3 linked regions of the Homo sapiens genome follow. The protein of the gene in region 3 interacts with the protein of the main gene of each other region in a biochemical or structural test. Each region holds a gene or a part of one and is shown on either strand. Other genes may lie near its edges.

The links. The genes of interacting proteins can lie anywhere in the genome.
Region 1: the proteins of COL2A1 (region 3) and THBS1 form a complex in vitro, tested with the Homo sapiens proteins (one study listed by BioGRID).
Region 2: the proteins of COL2A1 (region 3) and COCH interact in a biophysical measurement, tested with the Homo sapiens proteins (one study listed by IntAct).

The regions. Positions count from the first base shown.
Region 1 is NC_000015.10:39,584,077-39,591,098, forward strand, and holds part of THBS1 (thrombospondin-1 precursor), read left to right. Parts: coding exon 1-111; intron 112-223; coding exon 224-346; intron 347-1,393; coding exon 1,394-1,487; intron 1,488-2,049; exon of another isoform or gene 2,050-3,177; intron 3,178-3,270; coding exon 3,271-3,444; intron 3,445-3,965; coding exon 3,966-4,142; intron 4,143-4,449; coding exon 4,450-4,623; intron 4,624-4,882; coding exon 4,883-5,010; intron 5,011-5,125; coding exon 5,126-5,278; intron 5,279-5,728; coding exon 5,729-5,947; intron 5,948-6,439; coding exon 6,440-6,547; intron 6,548-7,022. UniProt on the Homo sapiens protein: Adhesive glycoprotein that mediates cell-to-cell and cell-to-matrix interactions.
Region 2 is NC_000014.9:30,870,649-30,877,578, reverse strand, and holds the start of COCH (cochlin isoform b precursor), read right to left. Parts: upstream 3,021-6,930; 5' UTR 2,988-3,020; exon of another isoform or gene 2,664-2,987; 5' UTR 2,641-2,663; coding exon 2,607-2,640; intron 2,524-2,606; coding exon 2,476-2,523; coding exon of another isoform or gene 2,281-2,475; intron 1,401-2,280; exon of another isoform or gene 1,027-1,400; intron 8-1,026; coding exon 1-7. UniProt on the Homo sapiens protein: Plays a role in the control of cell shape and motility in the trabecular meshwork.
Region 3 is NC_000012.12:48,001,462-48,008,740, forward strand, and holds the start of COL2A1 (collagen alpha-1(II) chain isoform 1 precursor), read right to left. Parts: upstream 3,016-7,279; 5' UTR 2,861-3,015; coding exon 2,776-2,860; intron 93-2,775; exon of another isoform or gene 1-92. UniProt on the Homo sapiens protein: Type II collagen is specific for cartilaginous tissues. It is essential for the normal embryonic development of the skeleton, for linear growth and for the ability of cartilage to resist compressive forces.

The DNA.
Region 1 (7,022 bases), on a different chromosome or scaffold from region 3:
GACTTGCAAGCCATCTGCGGCATCTCCTGTGATGAGCTGTCCAGCATGGTCCTGGAACTCAGGGGCCTGCGCACCATTGTGACCACGCTGCAGGACAGCATCCGCAAAGTGGTCAGTGGCCTCTGCACCCAGCCCGTTAGCATGAACCCTGGAAGGTTTATCGCAGATGGTCCCAAATGACTGAAAATGCGGGGGGACACTAATGATATTCTCTCCCATTTAGACTGAAGAGAACAAAGAGTTGGCCAATGAGCTGAGGCGGCCTCCCCTATGCTATCACAACGGAGTTCAGTACAGAAATAACGAGGAATGGACTGTTGATAGCTGCACTGAGTGTCACTGTCAGGTAAGGGACCTTCACCAGCCAGAATAAGAATCGACGGCTTTTGTTTGAACCTACATCTTTGGGGAAATACCCTAATCGCCACAGAGATTCTTTTTATGTTCCATGGCCTGATAACAAAGTGTTTTTTTTTTCTTTAAGATGCAATTATGGCATCTATAAGTTCTTCTTTAAACTCTCAGATGGTTTATCAAAGTATTAATTATACCCCAGGCTAAGTATCTAAGAGAATGAATCTACTAAGACATCTGAATAATTTACCTACCTTAGTTCAAAGACTAAGTGTTGAATGTCAGGTAAATAAAACCTGGTTGGAACATTCATTTTTTTTTCCCAACCCTGATTTATATTCAGCTTTGGCATAGGTTCTTTTAGTACAGTAGCAATTGTTTTTCAAATCACTTAGTCTGACACTGTTAGGATGTTACTGTCTGCTTTGCTCAGATGGCACTGCCAGGTGTGTGATTCACTCTAGCATCCCCGCATGCCAGTGGCCAGTGAGTTTGGAGGTTCACCTGGCTTATCTATTAATAGCAAAGTATTTGAATTTGCTTAAATACAAATCACAGATGACTGGCTGTGGGAACCAACTTCATTAAATTCCCTTTCTTTTCCAATATAAAGACAGATCACAGATCTATAGATGAGGAAAAAGTGCTTATAGATCTTCCTTCCTCCCCCCAAACACATAATATAAAAATGTAAAAGTCCTGGCTGAATTTTCTGAGTTTGATTTCAGACATAGATTTGACCCATGATGTTTGTTGGTTCCTCTGCTATAAATTCTTTGTACTGTAACTTCCACCCTTGACTAAGTAGCAATTAAAAAGAACTTTCCAAGGAATGGAGTGACACGTAAACTAGCACTAGAACTGTCTCTACGATAGTGGTGGCTGCAAATATGACAGAGACAGATCTATGAAAATCATTCCACTAGAGCATTGACAGCCCTGACCATGTTTTGGCTTGTAAAGGAAATGTTACAGGATGTAGACTTCTGTATGCAACATGCTCAGCAGCCTGTTCCCCTCTCACTCTCTTGCCCTGCAGAACTCAGTTACCATCTGCAAAAAGGTGTCCTGCCCCATCATGCCCTGCTCCAATGCCACAGTTCCTGATGGAGAATGCTGTCCTCGCTGTTGGCGTAAGTTTCTCAAATGGCATAGCTATTCTTCAGTGACTAGGTCAGTTCTACATACATCCTAGACAGCCGAGCACAACACTGGAACCCCACCCCCATCTCCATCATGCTTCCATTCAGTTTCTTGCTGCAGCAGCTGGTTAACTGACAGCTTATCTGCTGTACAGAGCCAAAACTCCATTATGAGTACATCGTAATTACCCATCTGGATTGCAGTAATGGCAGTGAAGATCTTGGTATAGCTCATTAATTCTGATTTTTTGCTTTGAGGAAAAGAGATGAAGACGTGGCAGCAACAGCTCTAAGTTGACTGCTTTTAGAATTTGACCTTAGTGGCACAGAGTTAAGAAAAATCTGCTCACCAGAGATATTGACAGGCTTACTGTGTAAGCATTGGCCTGATCGGGCCTGGAAGTTTTGCCCCTTTCATCTGTAGGGATAAGAGGGCCTAAGAGAATAGCAGCAATCTGAGCTCTAGAGCACCAAAAGAAATAAGGCACGATATCGTTCCATGGCACGTTATCCCTGGCTTTTGTTACCAGTAAAATGAATGACTTTGCTGAGACAATACTTAGTGTAGCAGGTACAAGTTATAAAAGTGATTCATTACAACTAAGATAAGGAAGAAAACAGGAAAACAGCACTTGCCCTTCACACACACAGAAACACACATGCACACACACACAAACACACCCTTGTCACAGCTCAGAATAACCAATTCCATCCAGGGATCATATTAGCGATATTGGCACTGTAATGGTCGTTTTTACATTTATTTTCTGTTCCGCATTCACTTAACATGTGCGTTAAAAGGAACAAAGCTAGCTGGAGGTAGCAAAGTTTTGAACTTGAATCAGGGATTGCTAAGAAAACTTACAACTAATGACCACAGAAAGTAAGTTCTTTGTCTTCTGTCTGATACAGCTAGATGTGATTGTAGCCGTGGTGCCTGGGCAGATGGTAAACAAACATGCTGTCCTCTTATGACAATATGTGCAGAGAAGGCCCCAAACGCTGGGGTGAGAGGAACAACAAACTGACTAACTCACGGCCGAGTTGGAGCCAGAACCAACAACAGCTCGGCTGCCTTCACACTCATCTGTCAAACACATGGTGTATGGCTCCCCTGACAGAAATGACTCCTATAAGCTTCCTCATACTCGCGCATTCTTGGAAGTCTGAGACTGGAAATGCCTACCCAGATATGTTAAGTCAGTAAAGGAAAACTCATTTGCAATGCTGAGAGGAGAAAGAAAATCAATGAATAGGAGAGCATACACTGTGGGAAGGCTCAGCTGTACTGAGCCAGGCAAAGCATCCGATTACCCCACTGCTGTACACATCATGACCTGGGATAAACCCCTGGGCCGTTGGCCTAAGAAATATGTTGCTTTTCATCCTGTATAACTGCAACTTTGTGCCGGCTCATATTATGTTCTAGAGAGCTCATGTACACCATGGTGACCATAGTTAATAATACTGGATTGTATGCTTAAAATTTGCTAAGAGAGTAGATCTTAAGTCATCACCAAAAAAAGTAACTGTAAGATGATGGAGATGTGTTAATTAGCTTGACGGTGGTAATCACAATATATGTGTATATCAAAACATCACATTATACACCTTAAATGTATATAATATTTGTCAATTATACCTCAGTAAAGCCAAAAAGAAATAAATATATTGCTTTTCACCCTCTGGCAAGTGGAGGGCCCTGAACAGAGCCCTCTAAAGAACAGCTTGTCCTAATCATCACGTACCTGATGAACCTCTGTTTCCCCTGCAGCCAGCGACTCTGCGGACGATGGCTGGTCTCCATGGTCCGAGTGGACCTCCTGTTCTACGAGCTGTGGCAATGGAATTCAGCAGCGCGGCCGCTCCTGCGATAGCCTCAACAACCGATGTGAGGGCTCCTCGGTCCAGACACGGACCTGCCACATTCAGGAGTGTGACAAGAGATGTAAGCATCTTAGCCTCTCAGGGACGTGGAGAACTGACCTGTCCTTGTTGTCGTCACCAAGGGCAGCTCCACAGCATGTATATTAAGAACACGGGTTCTAGGATCTCTGGATCCCAATCCCACTGCTTAGCTGTGCACCCTTGAACACAACTTACCCTCTCTGAGGCTCTTTCCTCATTTGCAACTTGGAGATAATAATAGTTCTTGATAAGTTTATCTTGAGCATTTTATTTAGATACTGCATGTAAAGCAGTTAGCACTGAGTTTTGGTTTATGGTAAGCACCCTGTAAATGTTAGGATATTAACAGCAACCCATAAAAACAGCGAACTTATCCGTTCTCTGGTAGAAAACATTCCATGTTGACATTTGGGCATGTGGCCAGGAGCCAATTTCTACCGTACACTGGGTTTAGTTGCCATTGACCATTTCCTGGAAATACTTCTGCGTGCTCCTGATGGGAGCCTCTATTTGGCTGTCTCTAAGCCAAAACCATTTGTGACCATCAACTCTGTACTTTAGTTAAACAGGATGGTGGCTGGAGCCACTGGTCCCCGTGGTCATCTTGTTCTGTGACATGTGGTGATGGTGTGATCACAAGGATCCGGCTCTGCAACTCTCCCAGCCCCCAGATGAACGGGAAACCCTGTGAAGGCGAAGCGCGGGAGACCAAAGCCTGCAAGAAAGACGCCTGCCCCAGTAAGTGTGAGGTCCGCTGCAAGGGTGAGCATGGGCAGCAGCTCTGCCCAGCTGGTTGCCTGGCATCTGCAGCCTGCAGTTCAGTGGGTCATAGAGCAGGAAGGTTACCTACTAGAGAAACAAACAGAAGCAAAGTCCTGCAGGCTCAGCAACTTCTTTTAATGAAAAACAAACTCACCCTCTTCCCCAGCATTCTTTCCATGTGTCAGAGAAGCAGAGGTTTCTTGAACGGGCTTAGGAGAGTCTATGACAAGGGAGGGATTTGAAAGTTGATCTTAATTGTTGCCTGTGGTTCATCTTCTTACAGTCAATGGAGGCTGGGGTCCTTGGTCACCATGGGACATCTGTTCTGTCACCTGTGGAGGAGGGGTACAGAAACGTAGTCGTCTCTGCAACAACCCCACACCCCAGTTTGGAGGCAAGGACTGCGTTGGTGATGTAACAGAAAACCAGATCTGCAACAAGCAGGACTGTCCAATTGGTGAGCCACGCAGCCCAGGATGAAACGACCCAGGAGCTTTGCTCTTTTACTGAATGCTGCAGTCAGCATTCGAGGAGATTCCAGCTTGGTTAGTCCTGAGCGATTTGATTGCTCTAAGATGCAGGTGGACAACATAATCCCAACAAGTTATCGGTTCCCTATACCCTATAATATCTTACACTGTGTTAAGTGCCCAGCATGGCAGTATGGCAGCTTAGACCAACCATTTACTGTGACTGTCTCTCTCTCCTTGTCTCAGATGGATGCCTGTCCAATCCCTGCTTTGCCGGCGTGAAGTGTACTAGCTACCCTGATGGCAGCTGGAAATGTGGTGCTTGTCCCCCTGGTTACAGTGGAAATGGCATCCAGTGCACAGATGTTGATGAGGTGAGGAACTGATGGGGCTCCGAGTTTCTGGATCTAGGAAAGCAGCTAACCTGTGCAGTCGCTTCCTTATGGCAGTGACTTCTAAACATGATGCACGCTCTTATTTCCTCCATAGTGCAAAGAAGTGCCTGATGCCTGCTTCAACCACAATGGAGAGCACCGGTGTGAGAACACGGACCCCGGCTACAACTGCCTGCCCTGCCCCCCACGCTTCACCGGCTCACAGCCCTTCGGCCAGGGTGTCGAACATGCCACGGCCAACAAACAGGTACAGTCAACTAGACGAGTAAACCAGAGGACAGGAGAGCTGTCCTTGACCAAAATAACTGGGAGCGGGAGGAATGTAATTTCATACCCTTCACCAAAAAAAAAAGGGCGAGGAGATGAATGTACGGTCTAGTTTTAGAAACGTGATTAGAAAATCCATGGTAAATCCTGCAGGGGAAAAACAGTCTTCCATATTTAAAAATGCTGCTCTGGAATAAGTTGTGAGCAGATGGACTTGTAAACGCCTAGGTGCTGAGCAAATTCAAGAAAAATAAACATAAAGCAAAGTTTGCTTATAGCCTCAGGGAGAATGGGGAGGGACAGAGGTAACCCACACTCTTCCAAATGGAGCCTCTGTCTACTCAGAGATGACAGGGATCTGGATTCTTGTTTCCATGATATCTGAGGATTCTCAAAAGCTCTGTGTAACAGCAGCATGGTGTACCCTCAGGTGTGCAAGCCCCGTAACCCCTGCACGGATGGGACCCACGACTGCAACAAGAACGCCAAGTGCAACTACCTGGGCCACTATAGCGACCCCATGTACCGCTGCGAGTGCAAGCCTGGCTACGCTGGCAATGGCATCATCTGCGGGGAGGACACAGACCTGGATGGCTGGCCCAATGAGAACCTGGTGTGCGTGGCCAATGCGACTTACCACTGCAAAAAGGTAGAGCCAGGTCCTTTGTGTGCCTCCAGAAAGAGGGCCCATCACCTTATCAAAACACAGGCTAAGGAATTTTAAATACTTAAAGTTTGGACATGAAACTGAAAGATTAAATCTCCCAAAGGGAGAGGGGCACTAATTCCTATTAAAATTAAATCACTTGGTGCCAAAAACATGAACAGGGCTAGCTCTTTTTGGGCAACTGTGTTCCATAGTCAACTCTTCTGTCCAAAAAAAAGTTCAGTACTCTATCCAAATACCAGCAAAGCATGACTTGTGTTCACAACATCTATAAAGCCTAGAGCATTTACACAAATTCTGTATGTATATCCCCCAAGAAAAGTTTTATTTTCTTGTCTTCCCATAAAAAAAATATGCTGTTACTGAGCCAAATTCTGTTCTTTTTCTATTTGGAATTCCAGGTACACTCCCTCGTGCATGAGCTCAGCATGAGGAAGGCAACTGAAGCAGTGATATATATCTTCTCTTTCCTAGGATAATTGCCCCAACCTTCCCAACTCAGGGCAGGAAGACTATGACAAGGATGGAATTGGTGATGCCTGTGATGATGACGATGACAATGATAAAATTCCAGATGACAGGGTAAAAACAGTTTTCTATCCCTTTTTCATCTTTTCAGTTCAGCAACAGCCTGAAACACTTTGGGATTCAAGGAAATTACATGGCTATAGCAAAAAATATACCAAATCAATACACAGGATAATTAGAAATTATTCATTGTGTTCCAGTAGTTTAAGGATGTAGATGTTGCCAAGAGAATTTTTAAATGAGGGTTTTGTTTTTCATCAGAACTGTTTTTCTCTGTACTTGAGAAATTATAATGCATAAACAAATGCCACTTTGTTCCCTAGATTCATTTCAAATGTCACATCGAAATTACAGTAAAATTGACTTTGGGCACACTATGAACTGAGATGATGGGATTATATTCTACATCTCACTAACTTCTAACCCACAGGGATCCATTTTTTTAACTATGTCCTTTTAACTTTTGTAGTGATCGTTTTACACTGAGTGATCAATTAGCCTATCCACTAGGTAGAAAGTATTGCTGATT
Region 2 (6,930 bases), on a different chromosome or scaffold from region 3:
ATGGGAGCTGAAGAAAAAGGAGATAATATTGTAAGCATTCTTAGGACTTCTTGGGGCATAGTGGTGGGGAGACTACAGTGTGAGATTTAAGTTTTACTTCCCTAATTTCTACACTTCTAGTTATGACTATTGACTTATATACCCTTCCATACCATTCCAGATTTTGGCAAGCCACAAGGTTGTTTTCCAATTTAATATAGTCCCCAGCCACTATAAAACTCTAATGTGAAAGTTCTGGGTTTTTATTTCGTTTTTGTTTTTGAAATGGGGACTCGCCAAGTTGCCCAAGCTAGGCTCAAATTCCCGAGCTCAAGTGATCCACCTCCAACTCCCTAGTAGCTGGGATTACAGGTGTGCCACTGTGCCTGGCTTCTCAGTTCTTAACCAGGTTGGAAATACATAATTGGAACTATATCTGAACTAGAAAATAAAAGTCATTTAATATTAATTATAGAAATATAAAAAATCTTGGCTGGGCGTGGTGACTCATGCCTATAATCCCAGCACTTTAGCAGGCCAAGACAAGAGGATTTGCTTGAGTCCAGGAGGTCAAGACCAGTCTGGACAACATAGCAAGACCTCATCTCTTCTAAAAAAAAAAAATTTTTTTTAAATGGCCACACGTGGTGGTGCATGCCTGTACTCTCCGCCACTGGAGAGGCTGAGGTGGGAGGATTGCTTGAGCCCGGGAGTTCAAGCTTGCAATGAGCTATGATTGCATCACTGCACTCCATCCTGGGTTACAGAATAAGATCTTGTCTCCAGAAGAAAAAAAAAAATTTTTAAATCTCAACTTTGATGACGCTATGTACACAGTTGCTTGAGGTAAAGATAGTAAATCTGGATTGAGCCTTTGTGGAACATTTTCATAGACATGTGCACAAATCAAAGCCATCCTTTCCTTCATAGGACCATTTATCCTAGTTAGCCTACAAATGCAGATCCTTAAACTCACACATTAAGGAAGCCAACAAAAAGATGCTTAGATTCACAGAAAGTTATCTAACTTGATTGTTCATTTTATAGATGAGAAAATTAAAGCCGTGGGGTTAATTTGCCCAAACAACATTCTACAACTCCCGAAGGACAGAAAACAGAAAAGTGAATCCCTTCAGAATACAGCATTTTTATCTTAATTGAACCTGATTATTTCTGCTCCAGATCTGTCCAGTGAGATTTATCAAGCAGCGGATGCATTTTTAGAAAGCACTGTTAATATTCTCAAGTTTTACACTGTCAACCTAACAAAGAATCAGTTTTTACTATAAATGATGCTAGGAAGAGACAAGCTCTTGGCAACAAGTAACAAGATAACATAATACAACATGTTAATTTGTGAATTTACTGTCGATACTAAATTGAGATTAATGTTATTAAATGCTATTTTTCAAACATGGGAAGTTGTAGTTATCCAAACCTTTTTAAAACATATATTAATTTTAAAAACCTTTTTTTTCCAAGGCAGAGGAATACTTTCTGGCCATACTGTCCAACTGAGTACCTTGCCTGTGACAAGCACCCTCCTCTGTGCCCTTTGTGGTGACAGGTACCTTACATTCCATGGAAGAGAAGGAAGGATGCAGGCGCAATGCCCATTTCTTAGCTCTGAAGCAGTCTAGAGAGCTGAGAGGTTAAAATCCTTACCCCTAAACAGCCTCATACCTATCATCAAACAGCCTTAATCCTTCCTCCCATTTTCCGCTGAGATGGGGGCGGCATCGGAATCCGGTGCCAAGACCGACCGCCTTTAGTTGCGAACACTGACTTTTGTTAAGTAGAGCGGGAGAAATACAGCCATGAGGGATACTTAACCCTCATTCCTACTTTCAAGGAAAACAAACGGTAGCTCTTAGGAAAGCGTTGCCTTTTACACTGGAAAATACACCAAACCACACACCCATACCCGGACCTCTACACGTGGTACAAACTTTTTAAACTCTCTAGCGTGTAGAGTGAGACCGCGAGTGCTTCTGATTATAGGGGTTACACCTAGAAACATAGCTAGCGAGTCAAACAAGGTGGGACAGCGACGTTCGCCTCCCTCTCTCTCGGCTACGGCAACCTGAAGTCGGGTCTGGGCGGCTTCTCCTCCACCCCCAAACGCAGCAGAGCCCAGGACTGGTGCGCTCCTCGGTGAGGCTCAAGGAGTCCTCCTTCCTCGACCTCCTGCTGCCGGCGCTCAGCGGGCCCGGGGTCTGGGGCTGTGGGTGGGCCTGGAGGAGGCCTTCTTCCTAGTGCTCTTGGAGAACGTCCCCCCACTGGACCCCAGGGGCCCCCTACCATGGGAGAAACAGGTGAGCAGGAGCAGATCGGCTGCAGGGGTTAACGCGGGCGCGCCACGCGGCGGCTCAACCTTCGCGCCTTCCTCCTCAGGCGGTAGGGCTGAAGCCCAAGGGGCTGGATCTGAGTCCCGCTTGTACCCGCTGGTGCTCAGCCCCTGCGACCGCCTGGACGCACCCCAGCTCCCCCACTCACCGGCTCCCTCGCTGCCCGCGGGCCCCGGCAGCAGCAGCAGACACACACCTGCGAAGAGAGAAGCGTGAGGGCTGGCTCCAGCCTCCACCCAGCGGAGCAAGGGGCCGGGGTCGTGAGGGGCGCGCACCCACCGAGGCCGAGAGCCGGGATCCAGGCTGCGGACATGGTGACTGATAGGCTGCTCACACCTGGGAGAGAGGGAGAATGCGGGCAAGGCCAGGGTGCGGGAGGCCCCGCGCGTCACCTCCTCAGAGCCCCGCACCCTTCGGATCCCCGGGCGCGGCGCAGAGGAGAGAGGACACAGACGACCCGCTGCTCCAGGCCAGCGCCCCTCTAGGTCTGGGAGGCGCCTCGGCGGCAAATCGAGCGAAGCCCAGGATCGGTGTGCAACCCCGCACCGCGGGGAGGCGGGGGCGCCAAAACGACGACAGACAGGCTGGGAGCGACAAAGAAACAGGGACAGAGGCGTCAGGGATCCCTCGCACCCGCGCCCGCCGCCCGGGGCTCCGCACCTGCTCGAGATCCACCCGGCTGCGCCCGAGTGCGGAAGGCAAGGCCCCCGCGGCCGCTATAAAGGCTGGGCCGTGCGCATGAGCACTGTGCGGGGGGCGCGGGAGGAAGCGCGGGAGCCGGTCCCCCGGGGCCCGGCGGCGACTTCCAGCTCCGCCTTCGCCCCCTGCCGGCCCCGGGGTGAGGCCGGCGCGGAGGCGCCTCCTCCAGCAGCGCAGGCTCGGCCACCTGGACGCGGCGCCAGTCCCTAGAGGGGCACGAAGGTCCCCGTGCCGGCGTCTCAACGAGTGTGGAGGGCCGGCGGCCCCGACGGCGGCAGCAGCGGCCTCGCCAGCCCTGCTCTGCCGGGACCAGGGCTGCTGAGGCAGCGGCGGCCGCTACCCGCCCCACCCAGCGAGGCCTGGAGCTTCTGAGAGCTGTCAGGTCCACGCGGCCTGAGAACCGAACTTCTCAACTTGGTGCTCTCGTGGAAAGAGTTCCTACTTCTGAAATAAAACCACCCTAGGTTTGGTAAACGCATGCCGCGTTTTTGTTAGAAACCCTGTCAACTGACTGCTAGCTCGTTGGACCTTAGGGATTCGGCCTTGCGCCTTCGTTTCTGCTGGAGTCCTACTTTCCCCAGTGGTTCAATTTGTGCTCCTGCCTAGAGCCACGCGTGTGAGACAGCCCTGACCCCAGCAGCCGGTACCTTTGCTTCTTTCTCACCTCAGGAAGAATTTATGCCTGATTGCCTTTCGAAATTCCCAGACTTGGTGTCTTGTGACTGCACAGAATCTCAGATTTGATAATGTGTTCTCCTTCTCCCCGCACCATCCTGCTAACGTTTTACAAATGGAAATGGAGAAGGAGCAGAATTCTTGAGGAGTGTTAGTGACAGGCGACCTGCATGGCAGCGGAAGAACCAGACCCAGGCCCAGACGCTAACCTTTCTGGTACAATATAAACTTTTTCAAATAGCCTTATTTAGTTACAATTTACATGCCATAAAATCCATCCGTTTTGAGTGTACAGTTCAATGATGTTTAGTAAATTTTCAGAGCTGTACAACCATCACCACAAGCCAATTTCAGAACAGGTTCATCCTCCCCAAAATGATCTCCTCGCCATTGTCAGTCAGTCTCTTCTCCCACTCCTAGTCCTAGGCAATCACTAACCTATTTCCTGTCTCTATAGATTTTTCTTAGTGGTCGTTTCTTATAGATGGGATTATACATTGTGCGGCTTCCTTCACTGCACAGAATGTTTTTGAGGTTCATCCATGAGGCATTATAGAACAGTACTTCCTTTCTTTTTATTGTTGAAAAGTATTCCCATGCCATTTTATACTGAGAAACAAATACACCACCATCACCTGGAAGTCAACTAGTGTAGTAGTCTTAATTACAACTATCTTCCTGATTGGAATGACTTAGTATTTGTATCAGGCAACTAAGGAGTGTTGATTTCATTCCCTTTACTACCTGAATGTCTTCTGGAGGGAAAGAGACCAAATAACATTTGAGGGCTGGGAGGTTTTTGATGTTTATTTTCATGGCTGCTTTCAAGATTTACTCCCTTCCCTGGTATAGAGAATTACCCTTTTCTTAGAAATCCAGTAATCTAGCCACTGCCCCTGATATTTTCCATGGGAGAAATTTCAAGCCTCAGGACAATTAAAGCTGTCTTTTCCATTATTGTTTATTGAGTGTCCTCAATCAGGGTTGGATAACCTCCCCTAATTAGGCTGGACAAATTGTCATGATGCTATATAATTAGGAAGAGTCTGTACGCTGGAAAAAACCTGCCACTTCACAGCTCAGCAGGCAGGTCCCAAATGGCCAAAGGGGTAGATGCTATTCAGAGCCCCCACAGGGCACTGGCAGCCCTCCTGTGATGTAATTTCAGTGAGTGATTTGGCAGAGTCAAAACTATGCAGCTATTTCCATGACAGACCCTGAGTCTGTAACCATTAAAAAATAAAGGAAATACCTCACTGAATTTCATGGTTGTTTACTGAGATTCATCTTAATTATTTTGTTTTGAAACATTTAAGAGAAGTTACTCTGTCTTTACTATTTTTTTCTTTTTGGTAAGGCCAACCAAGGAGAGTGGAAGAGTGGGGTTTAGACTCTCATTCTTAGCTAGTTTGTAGTTCATGCTCACCATAAGTATATTAAAGAAAAATATCTGAATTTAAGAGGTAATTGCCTCTGCTTTGGAAATATCTGAAGAGAGTCAAATCTAGGTATATTTGACTTAAAAAGACAAATTGTTAAAATGACAGAGTTTTGTATTCAGTTGGGTGATATTTTAGGGTAATCGTACTCCTAGGATGCCTGGTTAATCCTGCTTTATTATTTTTTTAAATATTTTATTTTATTTTATTTTATTTGAGATGGAGTTTTGCTCTTGTCTCCCAGGCTGGGGTGCAATGGCGCTATCTCGGCTCACTCCTACCTCTGCCTCCCAGGTTCAAGCAATTCTCGTGCCTCAGCCTCCTCCTGAGTAGCTGGGATTACAGGCACGTGCCACCACAACTGGCTAATTTTGTATTTTTAGTAGAGATGGGGTTTCACTATGTTGGCAAGGCTGGTCTCCAACTCCTGACCTCAGGTGATCCACCTGCCTTGGCCTCCCAAAGTGCTGGGATTACAGGCGTGAGGCCCGGCCTCATTATTTGTTAATTTTTAATTTAATTTAATCTTATTATATTGTTATTAATTACTATTATTAGAGACTTATTCTCACTCTGTCATCCAGGCTGGAGTGTAGTGGCACAATCAAAGCTCACTGCGGCCTCAAACTCCTATGTTCAAGAGATCCTCCCACCTCACCCTCCTGAGTAGCTGGGTCTACAGGTACACACCACTATGACTGGCTCATTTTTTACTTTTTGTAGAGAGGTAGTCTCATTATTTGCCCAGGCTGATTTCAAACTCCTCACCTCACGTGATCCTCCCGCCTGGGCCTCCCCAAATGTGGGGATTATAGGCATGAGCCACTGCGCCTGATTTTATCCTACTTTAGTGGGAAGTATTTGATATTCAAAATTTAGATGAACTCCGTGTAGAGCAGTGGATTCCTGTCTGGGCTGCACGTTGGAACTACCTGGAGAGCTTTAAAAATACTCATGCCTGGGTCCCACCCCAGAGATTTTAATATAATTGGTCTGGGCTGGGGCCAGGGCATTAGAATTTTTAAAAGCTCTCCAGGTGATTCTAATGTGCAGTCCAGGTGCTCAGTGTTAGAGGTTAAGCTAATTCTGCTAATCTTTCATTCTTCTTTCATTATCTTTTCGTTAAAATCCAACTTTAATATGCCTACTGCATTCCCCTGATAAAAAATGGAAGCATTTTCTGGCCTGATGGTTGTTTAAAAACAATCCCTAACAAAAAGATTGAAAACTCAATTTCAAAAGTAATTTTCCCTGGGAATGCTGCACAGTCACATTTCTGACTTTGTGCAGAATGCGCTGGCATTGTTAGGGAAATAAGCTGCCTCTAACACTGATACCTGGGTGGCATTGTCAGGCTTCAGGATGCTGCTGATGGCCCTAAAAGAGTTTCTCAAGGATGGCATAGTTACCTGATGGGATTTGGCTTGTGCTTACACAGATAAAACTCTTAGTTTATATAGGCTCTGTCTCTGTTCCGTTGTTACCTAGGTATGAATCTGCCCCTGAAGTTTTCATATTTTTGTTGTTGGTCTTTTTTTACTTTATTTTACCTTTTAAAGGAGTATCCAGTCCTGTTCTATCCTCTATACCATTTAAGCTCCCCGGTAAACTTTTACTTAGCCAATGTAATGCATAGCAACACGGTTTTATTTCGATTATGGTGGCCTCAAAGCAGCTGTCCCCAACCTTTTTGGCACCAGGAACTGGTTCCATGGATGATAATTTTTCCACGGGGTTGGTTGGTGGGGGGCGGATGGTTTTGAGATGAAACTGTTCCACTTCAGATTATC
Region 3 (7,279 bases):
GTGAGGAAGGTGTGGGAGAGGGGGCATCGGTTAATGCGCTCCAGCCCAGACTACAGGAGAGCCCACCCTCGCCCATGAGGACCCAGGGAGGAGAGGGGGAAATGCTAGGAGAGGGGCCACTCCCCGTGCGGATCAGATTTCCCGGGGAAGGGCGGCCCGGGAAGCGCCGGCGCAGGGGCGGGGCCAGGCTGCGCTGGGTGTAAGAGCCGCTGAGTGACTCTGTGGCTGCGGCTCTGGACACGGCTCGCTCACAGACACCGGGAGAGTGAAAAGTGGGATTAAATGACTGCCCCAGAAAGGAGCCAGCGCCGTAACCGGATCCCCTAGGTGTGGACGGAGGAGCCCAGCACCACCATAATTGCTGCTCCAAAACGGCTGCCGATAGCATCCCGGCGCGCCTGATCCGGTTCCCCTCATTACCGCAGGGCCGTATAAGTGATTCTTTGTGGCAAGCCAATTAAAAAGCTACCTCTTTCGGGGAACTGTTTTGCTTCACCGCCGCTCTGCGCAGGGCTGGAGCCGAGAGGTGGCGGCGGGCGGGCACAGGGGGGCATTGTGGGAGAGGGGGTCTGGGAGTACGAGAGAACCCACTGGACCTCGTCTCTCATGAATGGGGCTTTTCTCGAGCGCACACAGAGCCCGATTCACAGGTCTCCGCGAGGAACCAGTTTAAATAAATACGGGCAGCGTTTCAGCCCCATCTGGAAGCCATCGCTGCCAATCTCCCAATGCAAACAAGCCTCACAAAGGAGGATTGAGATCTCTCCCCTGAGCCAGGGGCACTTTCGGAGGCGAGGGCTCTGAAATGCAGATGAGGGTCAAAGACGCCGCCGCCAGTAAGTTTCTCAAACTCGTGGAAAGATGGAGAGGAGGGGTGTGGCCGAGCTCTAGGTGTCTGACATTCCTGACGTCCACGCAGACTGCGCATTTCCCCACGTCACACCTTTGGGTCCGCTGACCCCAGGCGGGGGAAGTTATAAAAGGTGGGATGCTCCAGGGCGCAAAATCAGCCTCTCGGATGCAGAATCACACTCCCTCTGGGAGGAGGAGCGACTGGAAGGTTTGGGCCGGAGAAGCTGTGGAATCACTCCCTCCCAGGAAAGATGCGGCGATGAGAGAGCTCTACCGCCTAATTAAGCAAGCGACCCTAATACCGGATGGAGAATTTGAGAATTATTTTAAAGCCACCCAGCTAATTCCATTGCGCACTAAGGCAGGGGTCAGTCAAGAAGACAGCTTTGTGGGCGTGTGCTTGTAAATGTAGTACAAAAATATAGTCAGTCTGAGTCCAGGCCACGTATAGTCACGCTGTATTCCTCAAATGCCCAGGAGCGCGCCTCCAGCTTAGCGCACTACCGGGTGACCCGGCCAGAGTCTCCTGCTCCCGGCTCCTCGCAGCTGCGCCGCAGGCTCCAGCCCTGCCCCCGCTGCGCTAATGACCGGAAAGCCCGCCTGAGCCCGCCGCCTTCCACGCTATCCCTGGAAACAGCCTGGTGGCAGGAGAGGGCCCACAGAGCCTCGAAGGCAGAGAACTTTTATTCCCCCCGCCGAAGAGTTTCCCTCTGCGATTGATTTACAATCTGTAACATACAAAGACAGGGCTGGAATCCCAGCCGTCGGAAACGTGCCCAAACACGTGGAAAAAAAAATCCTCTCTACCTAATACACTTTCCAGGCTTCGTTTGTCCTGAATATAATCCCAGACAGTGGACCTTACCAAAGGAGGGGTAGAAAGGTGCAGTCCGAACAGCATTTGGACCCGACTACAAGAGCCATCTCTAACTATACCGGTTGAAATAGTTGTAGCAACCGTAGCAATCGACCAGCCTGCTCCCCTTCCCTGACACACACATACACACACACACACGCACACACACACACACCACGCAGCCTGGCTCGGTGAGTTCCAGAATTTAGAAAAGTAACTCATTGTAGTACCTCGGGGCGGCGGGGAATGGGGTAAGACCGCGGGGAAGGGGGCGCTATTTTCGGGGGCATTTGAAAAGCACGGTCTGGTTGGAATGTTATCGTCTTTCAGATGGCCTCTCCTACTGGAAGTTTCTGTACCCTTTATCAGAAGAGAGGCGCAGGCGGACGGAGGGAAGTCGAGATGAGCGCTAGGGCTGCACCTTGCTCCAGGGCCAGCTGGGAGGGGGAGGGTACCCTAAAGAGGCGCTGAGGTCTCAGAGGGCCTATCGGAAGCCGTTCTTTGTGGCCTGGGATTTCAGCCCACCAGTGTCAGAGTGTTAGTCCCCTTTGTCTAACTCTGCTTTGAGCCCACCAGCCACCAAGCCTTGGACAGGCTGTGAAGTCAACCCTTTGGCGTTTGCTTGCTCCCTCGCTCGCGCTCTCTCTTTCCTACTTCACCTAAGTTCGATGAGTTGAGATCTGTTTTTGCTGAACTCGAAGTGCTTCGAAGAGGCGAGCTGTGTGCATGTGCGCCTAATTATCAAAGCTGGTGGAAAAGAGCCCATTTATATCTGTGCGCAAACTTCTCCGAGCCAACACTTTGCAAGTTCAGTATTCTAGCGCAACGTAGGGACCTGCAAATACTTGCAACTGCGATGGGCACCGAGGACCCTGGGACAGAGTCCTTGATTGGCAGAACTCTTCTTGGTGAACTTCTGCGTGTCCTGTGCCTAAGTCGGCGCGCTACGACCCCGGGAGCCGTTTTAGCCCGGAGCCGCGGGCTCCAGAGCTGGAGCGGGCCGGGGAGAAGGATGCTGAGGGACGCATGGAAAGCAGGCAGGCAGGCAGGGGCGGGGGAAGACTTACGGACATCCTGGCCCTGACACCGAAGGACAGCGGCGACGAGCAGCGTCAGCAGCACCAGCGTCTGGGGAGCCCCGAGGCGAATCATGGCTCACCGCGGGGCCTGGCTGAGCCGGGCCCGGGCGGAGCGCAGCGAAACGGCAGGAGCACGGCGCGGGTCCGGGTCTCTACCGCGCCCTCATGCAGGAGGCCCTTGGAGCAGGAGGGGGAAGCGGGAGACCCGGCAGCCCAGCAGCGCTCTGCGTCTTCTCCCCGCCGCGGCGCCCGTTATATGCGCCCGGCCCCTTTCGAGGCTGGCGAACTCGCCCAAACCGCGGGCCGCCCCCTGCCCCCCGCTGGGCTGTAACCTGAACCGCCCGCCCCCGGAGCCCGCCTGGGCCCTGCCAGTGCCCGCACCTGCCCAAGCCGGACCCCCCTCTCTGGGAGTCACGCTTCCCGCCCTCCACCCCTAGTGCGCCGAGTGGCCTGATCGGGCGGGGCGCAGAGATGGCCCCTGCCCCCCAAACCCGGGGCTGCGGCGCTGCCCCCCTCTGACCACAGGCGGGAAGGGTGGCCTCCGGCCCCTCCCCTCGGAGTTCTGCCGGAGTTGGAGGGGAGGGGGTGTTTGCAGAGGCGCAGGCCGAGAGCCCTAGACCAAGGACGGAAAAGACATGGGAGGGAGGAGGGAAAGCGGTAGAAAGGAGCAGCGGAGGGCGAGGGGGCACCGCGTCAGGCGTTTGGGAGTGGGGACAGGGAGGAGCCCACAGAGATTCAGAGTCCTAAATCTTGGAGACAGGCTAGCTGAGCCAGATCTGAAGGGTTACCCCGACCTATCTTTTAGCCCTTCCCTGCAGTACCTGGTCCCCAGACTCCCACCTGGACGTTCACAGCGACTGCCCTCCACCCCTCCCCCATCCAGCTCTGCGTTGAAGGCTTCCTCTGGAGCACAGGCCGAAGTTGGCCTGAGCCGACAGCCAGGAAAAGAGCTGGTGTGTTACTGCACAGAAGGAGACCTGTGTGAAGGTGTGGGGGGCAGGGGCAGGCCCTGGGAAGGGGACTGAAAGAGCCACAGAGGACGGAGGGAGCCGAGACTAAACGGTGCAAGCTGCCTGCTGTGGGGGGACTGTCTAGCTCCAGGCTCAGACGTGGTGTCTGCTCTTCCTGGCTGGGGTCCGGGAGTCCCCCGGGGAGTGGGCACTGCCGGCCGTCGTAGAGCAGCTTTGGCCAGGGACGGTTGGTCACTGCTGCGGCCCTGGCCAGGGATCGGGGAGGCCGATCCAGCTGGCGAGTTCTGTGAGCCGGGGAGAAGCGCCAGAATTTCCCAGTCGGCCCCCTAGCCCTCCGCTTGCCGCCTCACCTCACCTTCCCCGGTGAGCGCCCTCTCTCACCTTAGCCAAACTGCCTTCTTCCCAGGGCTTAGCTGGTCTCTTCTCTTGGTCTCCGGTGCCTCCTTTCATACCAGGGAGGAAACGTCCCCAAACAGACCTTCCTTTTGAGCGATATGGTCCCCCAAAGAACTATAGGCAAAATGAAACTCAGAATTTGGGGTCTGACTTAACCAGAACTTCTGCCCTCCTGGGCAGTTTTGTTTCTCTGGAGCTTTCCCCCTAGAAGCTGAGAGCACTTGAAAGAAGCTACTTCTGGGCCTTAGGCTTCCACCAGGGGTCCTGGGACCCCATCCCTAGCCTATCATGCTTTGACACTTGTCCTGGTAGAGGCTGGAGTTCCAAGTGCTCTGGTTGGAAAGGGAAAGAACTCATTGTTGAAGGAAATGCTTCTAGGCTTTGTCCAGTCTGGATGGAGATGGGGAAGAATTCAACCAGTTTCCAGCATCTCCCCTACCTTCCACGGGCCTTGTCTGAGTCTCCATGCTCCCATTCAGGGGCTTGCATTAAGCTCTGGGCTCTTCCTCAGGCCCAATCTCTGCTAGAAGAAAGCTGGTCTCTTGCCATCAGTGCCCCATGTCCTCTTTGGGGCTCAGAAGGTCCTATATTCTCTACCTGGAAGATAGAATGACCAAATTCCACACATTTATCAAGACCTCCTAGGTTAAAGCCCCTCTGAGAAGCCTTCTCTGATATCTCTAGAACACAACGTCTCCCTGGCTTTCTGAATCCCCCTGGCATTTATAGCCTAAGCTACATATGTTTTTGTGTAGTTTTAATTTTTTCCCCTTATATCCATTGGTCTTTATCTCATCAATGAGCTTGGAAGATGCTTGGGGACAAGAACTGTGCCTAGCACAATTCTAACACATAGGAGTTAGGAAAGCCCCTGTGGACTAATAATTTAGATACAACTATAAAGGCATTTATACAACTGACTTCAAATACAAGTTGTCATAAAAATTCAACAGAAAAAAAAAGAATTTGGGAGAACACACTAAAGTATGTGGAAAAAATCGAAGCCTAGTTCAAAATGATCCAGTTTAGTGAGTAGCAAAGTGGTACAGACTCGTTGCAAATTTGTTCTTAATTTCATCCTCTAGCTCTGTGATTCATCTTTGCCAATAGACTGTGTCTACATATAAGAGCTTTGGATTCCTTCCAGCAATCATGGTCCATCTATGAGTACAAGTTAAGCTCTCCACCCACTGTGGGAAAATTTCTTTTCACCAGCAACGGGAATTGACATAAGAAAAATAAAATTTAAAATTTAAATTGACAAAGCCAAAATAAACTATGGAAATTATTAAAATTCTAAAGCCAATTGAACACCAACATTAATATTTTACCCATCTGTGACTCCAAACAACTAATTAAAAACCTCTAATTTGTGACTCAAACTGGAATTAGACCTATATGTGGCACACATATGCAAATCACTGATTTGGAAATTGATCGTCCAACAATCTCACTATCCATACCATACCCAAGAAACTGAAAAGAAGGGGAACTAAACCACTAAATAGCCAGAATTGATGTTATATAAAGCTATGCATTTTGTGCACTGTAGAGTCCTTCTTACTCCATGTCTGCTAATTCATAGTTTAGATATTGTATTAACACGTAATGGCATCTGACCTCACCAATTAGATGCAGAAAACTAGAGGTGAGATAGGAAAGCAGCAGTTGTTGATGAAGCACAATGAGAACAGGAAAAAGGGAGAGTAAGAGAGGACACAGAAAAGCAATGTGAAGTTGACACAACAAATACAAAACATGGTAGCCGAAGGTCAGTGGGGTAGGGTCAATGCCCTTACAGTCATCAATGCTTCCAGGGAATATCCCGATCTACAGCATCTGCTGTAGTCCCTGCGATTCATAATGATAAACTGAAATGTCCAATAAAATGCTAATTTAAGTTTAATGTGGTCTCTTTGAGGAGACAGGAAATATGTATTCCATATTTGAGAAAGGTTGTAAATAAATGTTCATTCACTTAATGTGAAAAATATTCTATCATAGCAGTGTCAGACTAATAAGGAAATGCTGCAATTTCTGGAGCCACTGAACTGAAAACAAAGAGCTTCTGTTTTCCCCAGTTGGTAGAAGAAGAGCATCGATGGCCGAGATGAGTGTCCCACATGGCCAGCCTCACTTACACCTTTAAGTACAGCATGGGTAACTGTAGGTAGAACAGTTAGAAATTAAACAGGTACAATAGGGTGCTGTGCCTCACACCTATAATCCCAGCACTTTGGGAGGCCAAGGCCAGAGGATCACTTGAGGTCAGGAGTTTGAGACCAGCATGGCCAATATGGTGAAACCCCATCTCTACAAAAATATGAAAATTAGCTGGGTGTGGCGGTGTGCACCTGTAGTCCCTTAGGAGGCTGAGGCAGGAGAATCTCTTGGACCCGGGAGGCAGAGGTTGCAGTGAGTTGAGATTGCGCCATTGCACTCCAGCCTGGGCAACAGAGCGAGACTTCATCTCAAACAAAAGAAAGAAAGAGAGAGAGAGAGAGAGAGAAAGAAAGAAAGGAAGAAAGAAAGAAAGAAAGAAAGAAAGAAAGAAAGAAAGAAAGAAAGAAAGAAATTAAACAGTCACAATCAGTGTATCTACCCCAAGTCAGCCCAATTCAGAGAAACAGATGGATTAAATCAGCAATATTGTGTCGTGTAGACAAAATAACCATTTCACTATTTTTCTCTCTTTTATGGAGGCATTAAATTTAGACTCAGGTTGACACAGCCTTATTGGGAAAGATATTTGTAGACAGGCTGTAAAGAAAAGATATCTTTCTCTTCCTCTACACAAATCCCATTTAAAAATAGTGATAAAGTGAAGAAGGATTCACATTCCAAAGAGGTAAGCCCACCCCAAATATGGCAGGTGGTGAATGCACAGACTTCACACAGCAGCCGTGCCTGGGGGTGGTGAGCCCAGCTTACTCAGTGACACTCAGCTTCTGTTGGTTGGGCTCCGTTCAGACAGTCTTTCAAGATGTGTTTATGTTTTCCTTTGGCATTTTGGGGGCAGAGTAACAGAATCAAGACTGTCCAGGATAGGGTTTTCCAGATTTATGGTGTACATTCCATTCCATAGGAGCATAAATGTGTTACTATGTATTCTCAAATGCAAATAG